Homo sapiens: one gene and its partner. The protein of the gene in region 1 purifies or fractionates together with the protein of each later gene. This does not show direct contact. Each region holds a gene or a part of one and is shown on either strand. Other genes may lie near its edges.

What was found.
Region 2: the proteins of ZNF287 (region 1) and SSX2B purify together in Homo sapiens (affinity purification with mass spectrometry, with the first as the bait; one large-scale study listed by BioGRID). This does not show direct contact.

What each region holds. Positions count from the first base shown.
Region 1 is NC_000017.11:16,565,959-16,570,157, forward strand, and holds the start of ZNF287 (zinc finger protein 287), read right to left. Parts: upstream 2,743-4,199; intron 2,157-2,742; exon of another isoform or gene 2,085-2,156; intron 1,972-2,084; 5' UTR 1,774-1,971; coding exon 1,371-1,773; intron 665-1,370; coding exon 567-664; intron 1-566. UniProt on the Homo sapiens protein: May be involved in transcriptional regulation.
Region 2 is NC_000023.11:52,749,620-52,754,056, forward strand, and holds the start of SSX2B (protein SSX2), read left to right. Parts: upstream 1-1,632; 5' UTR 1,633-1,699; intron 1,700-3,041; 5' UTR 3,042-3,061; coding exon 3,062-3,130; intron 3,131-3,568; coding exon 3,569-3,683; intron 3,684-4,218; coding exon 4,219-4,314; intron 4,315-4,437.

The DNA of each region.
Region 1 (4,199 bases):
CCTGGGCAACAGAGTGCGACTCTGTCTCAAAAAATATATATAAATTCATGACCAACAGTAATATGACAGAATGCATGGCCTTTAACTACTTGTTAATGAGGAAAAATAATAGTAACAATCATCTATTAATTGCTTAACTGTAATCCAGGCTAACTACAAGTCTCATAATATTTAATACTCACAACCTAAGAGGTAAATTCTATTTATGAGAGTAGAATAACTCAGGCTAAGAGAGGTTAAGTATCTTGTCCCAAATTGCAGTTCCAATGGTAGAGCCGGGAAACAAAACCTAAATCCATCTGGCTGTGGAGGTCAATCTCGTATTCTCTATGTGATATTGCTGACAAAGTCAAAGTAAGGAAAGACATATCAAGGGAAGGCAATGGAAGCACCTTTTCTTTATAGTACATTCACCTACCTTAACAGACCAAGATAACATAGGAGAGAAACTGGGGCTTAAGTCCTTGATAGAGCTTCTGGGGGCACAGTAGTTATAGGGCCAGGTCAGAAAATGTCCTCACACACTAAGAAGGCATTTTAAAATCAGAAAAGACAGTCACACTCACTTTGGTCACCAAGTCATTTAGCCATCCTGTCTGGAAAGCATGTTTTCCTCTGGGGTCTTCCTCTGGGGTATCTTGGGAAAGGGTAGAGTTTTGAGGAGCTAGAGAAGAGAAAGAGGTCATGAGGGAGATTAGTCCTTTCTGAATAGCCTAGGAAACCCCTCACCAAATAGATGCCTACACTTTCTTAAATCGAGAAGTAAGAAGGAAATCAAAAACAGCACTCCTACTTCAAAGCATCAGAGGAAAGGGCCAATGACTTGTCCTAAGACATCAAAACAGACTTCAAAAACAAGCTCGCTCTAAAAATCTTAAAGAGTATGAACAAAATTCACATTTTAACTAAATCCTTATGTGATATTAATTTTGTGAGTTATCTCTTAATAAGGGAATGTTCTCTAGACCCTTTCTTCCTTTTTTGGAAGTATTTTATTGTAAAATTCAATTCACAAAGCAAATGATTTATTAGTAGAATGGTGCAAACCTCTGAAGGTACTTTCTGAGGGCTCACACAGTGGTAATTTGGTTGCGTCTGGTCATTATTTCAAGACGTTTTTCTTGGGGGTTTAGATAATGTGTGTTTGCTCCCAAGCAATCTGGAAGGAGAACACCATGCAGGATGGAGCTCATGTTAAAGCCTTGTTCTCACTCACTAACCTTTGTTCTCCCCAGTTTCTTTCTTTTTAAAAAATGCATCCTGGACCTCTCAGTGCTCTCCCTGATTTCTTTAAAGGAGCTGCTCAGATGTGCTAGTTGTCTTCTTTAACCACCCAGGGATTCCTCCCCTCTCTGCTCTATGATTCTCACCTTCCTCTTCTAGAATCTGAGTCAAATCCTCCACCAGAGTCACTGCTTCCTCGCTGCTCTCTGGATACTGGGACTTTACCCAAGTCCTAACCTCACCAGGCAGGATGGTCAGGAATTGCTCCAGCACCAGCAGCTCCAAAATTTGTTCCTTTGAGTGAATCTCAGGTCTCAGCCACTTAAGGCAGAGCTCTCGGAGTTGACTCAATGCCTTTCGAGGACCAGCCAGGTCTGGGTATGGAAAATTCCTAAAATTCTGTCGACAGGTCTCAGTGTCACGCAAGAATCTTGAAGTAAGGATTTCCTTCTCAACATTGTAGGGTCCACTCTGAGCCTTGTCTGACTTCCACCTTAGAAGGATTTGAGAACGTGAAGAACTGTTCATCCTCTTGCTTGAGGCTAACATTGCTACAGACAGGAGAGTCAATCTGGCAATATCCTTTATTTCTCCAGTAGTGAGCCAACTGCTTGAAGTCTCATGCTAGAGTCACAAGGACACTATATCAAAGGCTGCTGCAGCCGAGGGCAGAACAGAATCAAGGTAGAGTTAGCAGCCTTAGTGACAAATTCTGAGCCCAGAACTTGCAGGGATGGATAAGAGACCCTGAAACACAAGCATGGACCACAAGGTCAAGAATCCCTGGTGTACTCTACTATACATATACACACACAGAAACAGACTCGCAGTGTGCATAGATGAACACACATAAGCTTTACCTTGTCTTCCTCCCCTATATCCTTAGACTTGTAAGGGAACTGCCATCTGCTTGGGGTTGGTGGGGGATGGAGCTGCTATTAAAAAGGTAGTGTCAGAGGCAATGACTCGAATCTAAGCCAAACAACAGATTAAACCTCTAACCTGTTGTAACAAAAATTAAACATTTTTATAGAGAAAATAGTTTCATTATTTTAGTCACTGATGTTACAGAAGCTGTAATGACTGAACGGACTCTCAACAATAACAAAGTGAATCTGTTACTTGGAAGAAACTAGGAGAATTTCTTCTTAATACAGTGCTCAAGGTTCCCAAGGGAACTGTCAGGGGAAAGGGCGAGCCATTTATCTGCGTTGCATGTTAATGCCAGCCGATTCTAGCCTTTCACTATCAGAGGGTTGGGAAGACCAGCGGGTTGGACTGGAAAAGAGTGAAGAGGTTGGTGTGACTTCAAGTCCTTTAAGTGCTTCTATAGGAGACAGTTCTTTAGGGATATATTCGAAACCAGGATTCTCGAAGGAAACCTTAGAACCGGCCTGATCTGGAGGAGAACCGACACCACCTCTCCCCAGGCTCCAGCTCCGAGCCCTGCTGAGGCACAGTCGTGCCACCAAAGACAACTGTTTACAAGGCCCTGCGGAGGTGATGCGACAGCCTTGCCTTGCCTCCTGTCGCCTCCCCTTCCCGGCCAAGTCCCTCTGCCTCTTACTCCTCTTCAGCCGCAGGGTCGAGGTCGAGGGCAGCGGGGGAGTCGGGGACCGTGCGACGCGCAACGCTGGGACTGGGCCCACAGCAGCCTCCACCCCGTCTTTGCCCTCCCGCAAGCCACGAGCACGGGAGCCCGCGCGTGGACGGGCTCGGGCTGTCACTGATCGCGCGGACACTCGCGCGCTGCGCCCGGACATCAATACCTGTCGCTGGGACCCGGCCGACGGGCAGCCGGAGCGGCCCTAAGGCCACAGGCAACAATGGCGACGCTGGCACAGGCGCCTGCGTGGCGGGCTCAGTCCCGAGCGGCAGCGGATCCTCGGGCTCCGCCACTTCCCTTCCCCGCAAAGCACAGAGTGTCCCGGCCAGGAGCTGCACGTTCCAGCCCGGTCCTGAGAAGCCCGGCCCAGAAACCCCGGCGCCTCTGCTTAGCCGCGACCTCGCCTCGGCGTCACTGCGCATGTGCGCCAGAGGAACGCTGCGCGCCCGCAGAGCCAATCGGAGCCCAAGCTGCCGCCTCCCCCTCCCGCGCCTCTGGCCCTGGACCTGTCTCCATGGCAACCTCCTCCACCCATCGCTCTGACTTGCTTGTCAGCCTGCGAGGTTCCGAAGGGAACTTCAAAGTTTCCCCGGGCAGACGCAGGTCTGGTAGACGTCTTGGAGGCCAGGGAGGTGCCAGTAGCTGGAGGAGCGCCGGGAGTTGAAGCCCCGCGCCAACTACGCAGAGAAAACTGGGCGCCAGATTTCCTAGAGGAAGAATGGGCAGGGAAGATGTGGGTCTAAAGGCAGAAAGACTTAATGTGCGGTTTCGGGCTTTACTGTGCATACATACTAACTGTGAAAGGTTTTCACTTCCTCCTCAGGAATTTGATTCTGAGACTCTCAGATTGGGGGAAAAAAACCCATGTTCTTTCTTTCTTTCTTTTTTTTCTTTTGAGACGGAGTCTCGCTCTGTCGCCCAGGCTGGAGTGCAATGGTGCGAGCTCGGCTCACTGCAACCTCCGCCTCCTGGGTTCAAGTGATTCTCCTGTGTTCAAGTGATTCTCACTTGAACTTCCTGGGTTCAGCCTCCCGAGTAGCTGTTATTTCTAAGAGACACAAAACAAAAATACATAAAACACTGGAAAAATAAAAGCATAGAAAAACATATTCAAGGTGTTCCCGTTATCTACTGTTCTATTAACAAACCACCCCAAAACTTAGTGGTTTTGAAGGACAATCACCGTATTATGCTCATAAATTTCATGGTGAGGAATTTGAAAGGGGAACTGAGTGGGTGGGCCTTTGCCTCATTATGTCTGTAGCCTCTGTTGGGATGATTTGATGGCTGGGAGGGCCCGCTTCCAAGATGGCTTTTCCACTCACATGTCTACTGCTTGGGAGGAGATGGGCTAAAAGATGAACTCGGC
Region 2 (4,437 bases), on another chromosome or scaffold:
GTAGTCCCAAGGCCGAGGCGGGAGAATCACTTGAGTCCCAGAGGTAGAGCCCAGCCTGGACAACATAGCGAAACTGTCTCTAATAGAAAAATTAAAAATATTAGTGGGGGCGGGGTGGTGTGAGCCCATAGTCCCGAGGCCGAGGCGGGAGGATTGCTTGAGCCTAGGAGGTCGAGGCCAGCCTGGCCAACATAGCGAAACCCCATTTCTGCTAACAACAAGAACAACAGAAAAATAGCGTGGGCGGGGTGGCTCACTCCTGTAGTTTTGAGGCCAAGGTGGGAGCATTGCTTGAGCCCAGGAGTTTGATACCAGCCTGGCCAACAAAGCGAAAGCCTGCCTCTCCTAAAAAATAAATAAATAAATAAATAAATAAAAATGAGCGGGGTAGAATGGCACACGCCTATAGTTCTGAGGCCGAGGTGGAAGCATCATCTGAGCCTGAGAGGTTGAGGCCAGCCTGGGCAACATATCGAAACCCGGTTTCCACTAAAACGAAACAAAACAAAACAAAAAATAGCTTGGGCAGGGTGGTGCATGGCTGTAGTCCTGAGATGGGAGGATCCCTTGAGTCCAGGAGCTTGATGCCGGCCTGGCCAACATAGGGAAACACGGTTTCTACTAAAAAAAAAAAAAAAAAAAAAAGCGTGGGCAGGGTGGTGCATGCCTGTCGTCTCGAGGCCATGGCGGAAGGATCCCTTGAGCCCAGGACGATGAGACCAGCCTGGCCAACATAGCAAAACCTGGTTTCTACTTAAAAAAAAAAAAAAAAAAAAGCGTGGGCTGGGTGGTGAATGCCTGTAGTCCCGAGGCCGAGGTGGGAGGATCGCTTGAGCCCACGACGTCAAGACCAGCCTGGCCAACACAGCGAAACCTTCTCTATTAAAAAATCAAAAAATAAAAAATATTAGTGGGGGTAGGGTGGTTCGCGCCTGTAGTCCCAAGACGGAGGCTGGAGGATTGGCCAAGGCAGATGTAACCAATACCACAATCACATCCCATAAGTAAATACATTTTCCTCTCTTCAGGGCTACAGGTAAAGGATGGTAATTGTGCGCACCATACTTAAGATTCCCTTTCAAAAATGTAAGCAGAGGTTGCGGGGCCTTGGACTGTTTTTTCAGTGGCAACAGACATAGAAGCCACTGAAGAATGAAAGCCACGACTAAGTATAGCAAACCTCCGCAAATGTGCTAGTTTGGAAAACATCGTGTCTTTCAAGTAGAAAAATCACAGATTGACTATTTTTTTCTTCCCACAGTTCAGACTAGAATCCAGATTTTTAACCCAAGATCCAGGAACGGTCTTCAGAGAGTTCAAAATCTGACGGCGCCTGAGGACCACCCACTTTTTCGCAGTGGCAACAAAGTGTGGCTGGAGGAGGAGACATTATTCTGCTATGTCACTGCCCAAGGATGATGGACCAATCAGGGCAGTTAGTGAACTCCATCTGGCCAATTAGAAGTCAGAACAGTAGGCGGAACAAGCGAAGCGGATGTGGCTTCTATCAGTCCCGGCTCCAGGGACGGAACCTTCTCAAAGTGGGGGTGGAGACTCTAATTTTCCCGCCTAAAGCATCCCCTGGGATTGGCTACTTTAAGTTCAGAGTACGCATGCTCTGACTTTCTCTCTCTTTCGATTCTTCCATACTCAGAGTACGCACGGTCTGATTTTCTCTTTGGATTCTTCCAAAATCAGAGTAAGCATACGCCGATTTTCTTTTTCCATTCTTCCTACCCCTCCCCTCCTCCGCGGTGCATTTGCTATCTAGTTTTAATAAGGAGTGTATATGAGGCAGGCCGCCATCTCGAATCTTTCCTGTCAGTTTCTAACTTTTTCAGGTACGGGATTTTTCCTAGGAACTCTGTAGTAACTTAAGAAATTTGGGCCGGGCGTGGTGGCTTACACTTGTAATCCCTGCACTTTTGGAAGCCACAGCTGGTGGATCGCCTGAACCTAAGAGGCGGAGGTTGCAGTGAGCCATGATCACGCCAGTGCACTCCCGACTGGGCAACAGAGCGAGACCCTGTCTGAAAAAACAAAAACCAAAAAAGCTCACTCAAATCTTTCCTCCTGGGCTCAAGTGAGCCTCTCGCCTAGGCCTTGGGGCTACAGGCGCGCACCACCCCGCTTCTGCTAAATTTTGTTTGTTTTTTTTAGTAGAGATGGTTTTGCTACGTTTGCGAGCCTGGTCTCAAGCTCCTGGGCTAAGGCGATCCGCCCACCTTGGCCTTCCAAAGTGCTGGGATGGTACAGGCCTGCTCCACCAACCCCAGCTAACTTTTTGTGTATTTTGTAGACGGGGGTTTTGCTGTGTTTCCCAGCCGGGTCTCGACCTCCTGGGCTCAAGCGGCCTGCACGCCTCGGCCTCCCAAAGTGCTGGGATTACAGGCGTGAGCCACGGCGCCTGGCTGATTGCTGCATCTTGAAATGCCCCACATTCTCTCTAAGTGATGGCGGGCTCTTGTAGTCTCAGAAATTCTAGCTCTCTTCCTTCTAATAATTTACAAATCACCGAGTAATAGCCTCTGAACACGTTCATATTAGCGATGCTCATTTCTCTTCAACAGAACAGAACCCCCCATCCCTCTGCCTGATCAGATCCATCGCCAAAGAGACCATGTTATCTCTGGGACTAACTTCCCTTCCTTTATTTATTGAGTGGGGGTGTCAGCATGCCCCCACTGAATAAAATTACACAGTCATGTCCCTGCCTCCCCAAAAAGGGTCCGTACATCTTTCAGGGTAAGCCTAGCTCCAGGGAAACTACTAACAACATTAGCCAACCCCCTCCCAAAGACTCAAGGCTGCTTTGCCCATAGGAAACCTGTCATTCCCTATCAATACTTCTCCCAGAGACCCCTGGTTCCCTGTTTTCATCTGATTTCTCCCCATATCCTTACTCAGGGACAGATAAGCCCCGGATGGAGAAATGCAGCAGCTGATTCCAGGTGACTGAGGGTGGCCGGCCTTCACTGACTTCTCCCTCCACAGGATCAAAGCTGCTGTGGCTGGAAAGACTCAGGCTATTTCTCTTGCAGGTCAGACTGCTCCCGGTGCCATGAACGGAGACGACGCCTTTGCAAGGAGACCCACGGTTGGTGCTCAAATACCAGAGAAGATCCAAAAGGTGAGGTGACCTGGAGGGAGCAGAGTAGTGGCCCAGGGGACAGTGTGGGGTGACCCGGTTTCTGAGGAGGGGAGGACAGAGATACTGGAGACAAGGAGCAGGGTCTCGGGGGAGATCTGGACCCTTGGGAGCCTCCCACCCTCGCTCTGTCATCACCTAGCATCCCTGGAGACAAGTCTGTGACCTTGCACTACATCTGGTGACTCTCAGTCCATTCTGGAAGGTGGGAAGAGAGCCAGCCAGCAGCATTAAAGCCCTACTGTGTGGCAGGGGTGAAGCTAGGGAAGGTCCCTCGTGTTCTGTCAGTTAGCCATGGCATCAACCAGGAAGGATTATCATCCCCAGTTCCCAGATCTAGCACACAGGAAGCGGCTCCAGCTGAATGGCAGACATGCCTAGCTGAGTCCCTGCCATAATTCCTTTTTTTTTTTTTTGTAGGCCTTCGATGATATTGCCAAATACTTCTCTAAGGAAGAGTGGGAAAAGATGAAAGCCTCGGAGAAAATCTTCTATGTGTATATGAAGAGAAAGTATGAGGCTATGACTAAACTAGGTAACAGAAAGTTCTGGGAACAGACAAGTCTGGGGACACATGAGCATCCCTTTTCCTGCTTTGGCTACTTCTTAGGCTGCAGAAAGTACCTCACATTTTCCTTTTGTGCAGGGAAAAATCGCAAGGCAGCTTCTGGGTGTTCTGCTCTTCTGTATCCTGTCAGGGCTGAGGGCAGGGACTGGCCACAGTGGAGCTTATACCTGGATCCTGCACGTTTCTCTCCCTTAGGCTTCTGTTCTGATGAGCCCAACTGTCTCTGTGGCATCCCGGCAACCCCCCTACCCCCACCCCACACACACCCACCCTACCTTCTCTCGGCTTGTCTCTTCCTTTTTTTTTTTTTTTTTTGAGTCAGTCTCAGTCTGTCACCTAGGCTAGAGGGCAGTAGTGCAATCATAGCTTACTGCAGCCTTGAATTCCTGGCCTCAAGCAATTCTCCAGCCTTAGCCTCCCAAAGTGTTGGTACTACAGACATGAGCCACCATACCAGGCCCAAGCTTGTCTCTTAAGGAATAAACATTTTGCTTCTTTCTAGGTTTCAAGGCCACCCTCCCACCTTTCATGTGTAATAAACGGGCCGAAGACTTCCAGGGGAATGATTTGGATAATGACCCTAACCGTGGGAATCAGGGTGAGTAGATGGGAAGGGGCTGGAAAGGGTCTCCTCAAGCCCAGCTGCTTTTCAGCTCAGCTACCTGAGAAAGATCCTCAGGCATTTGTTCCCTCATACACATCAGGGCTGAGTGAAAAAAAA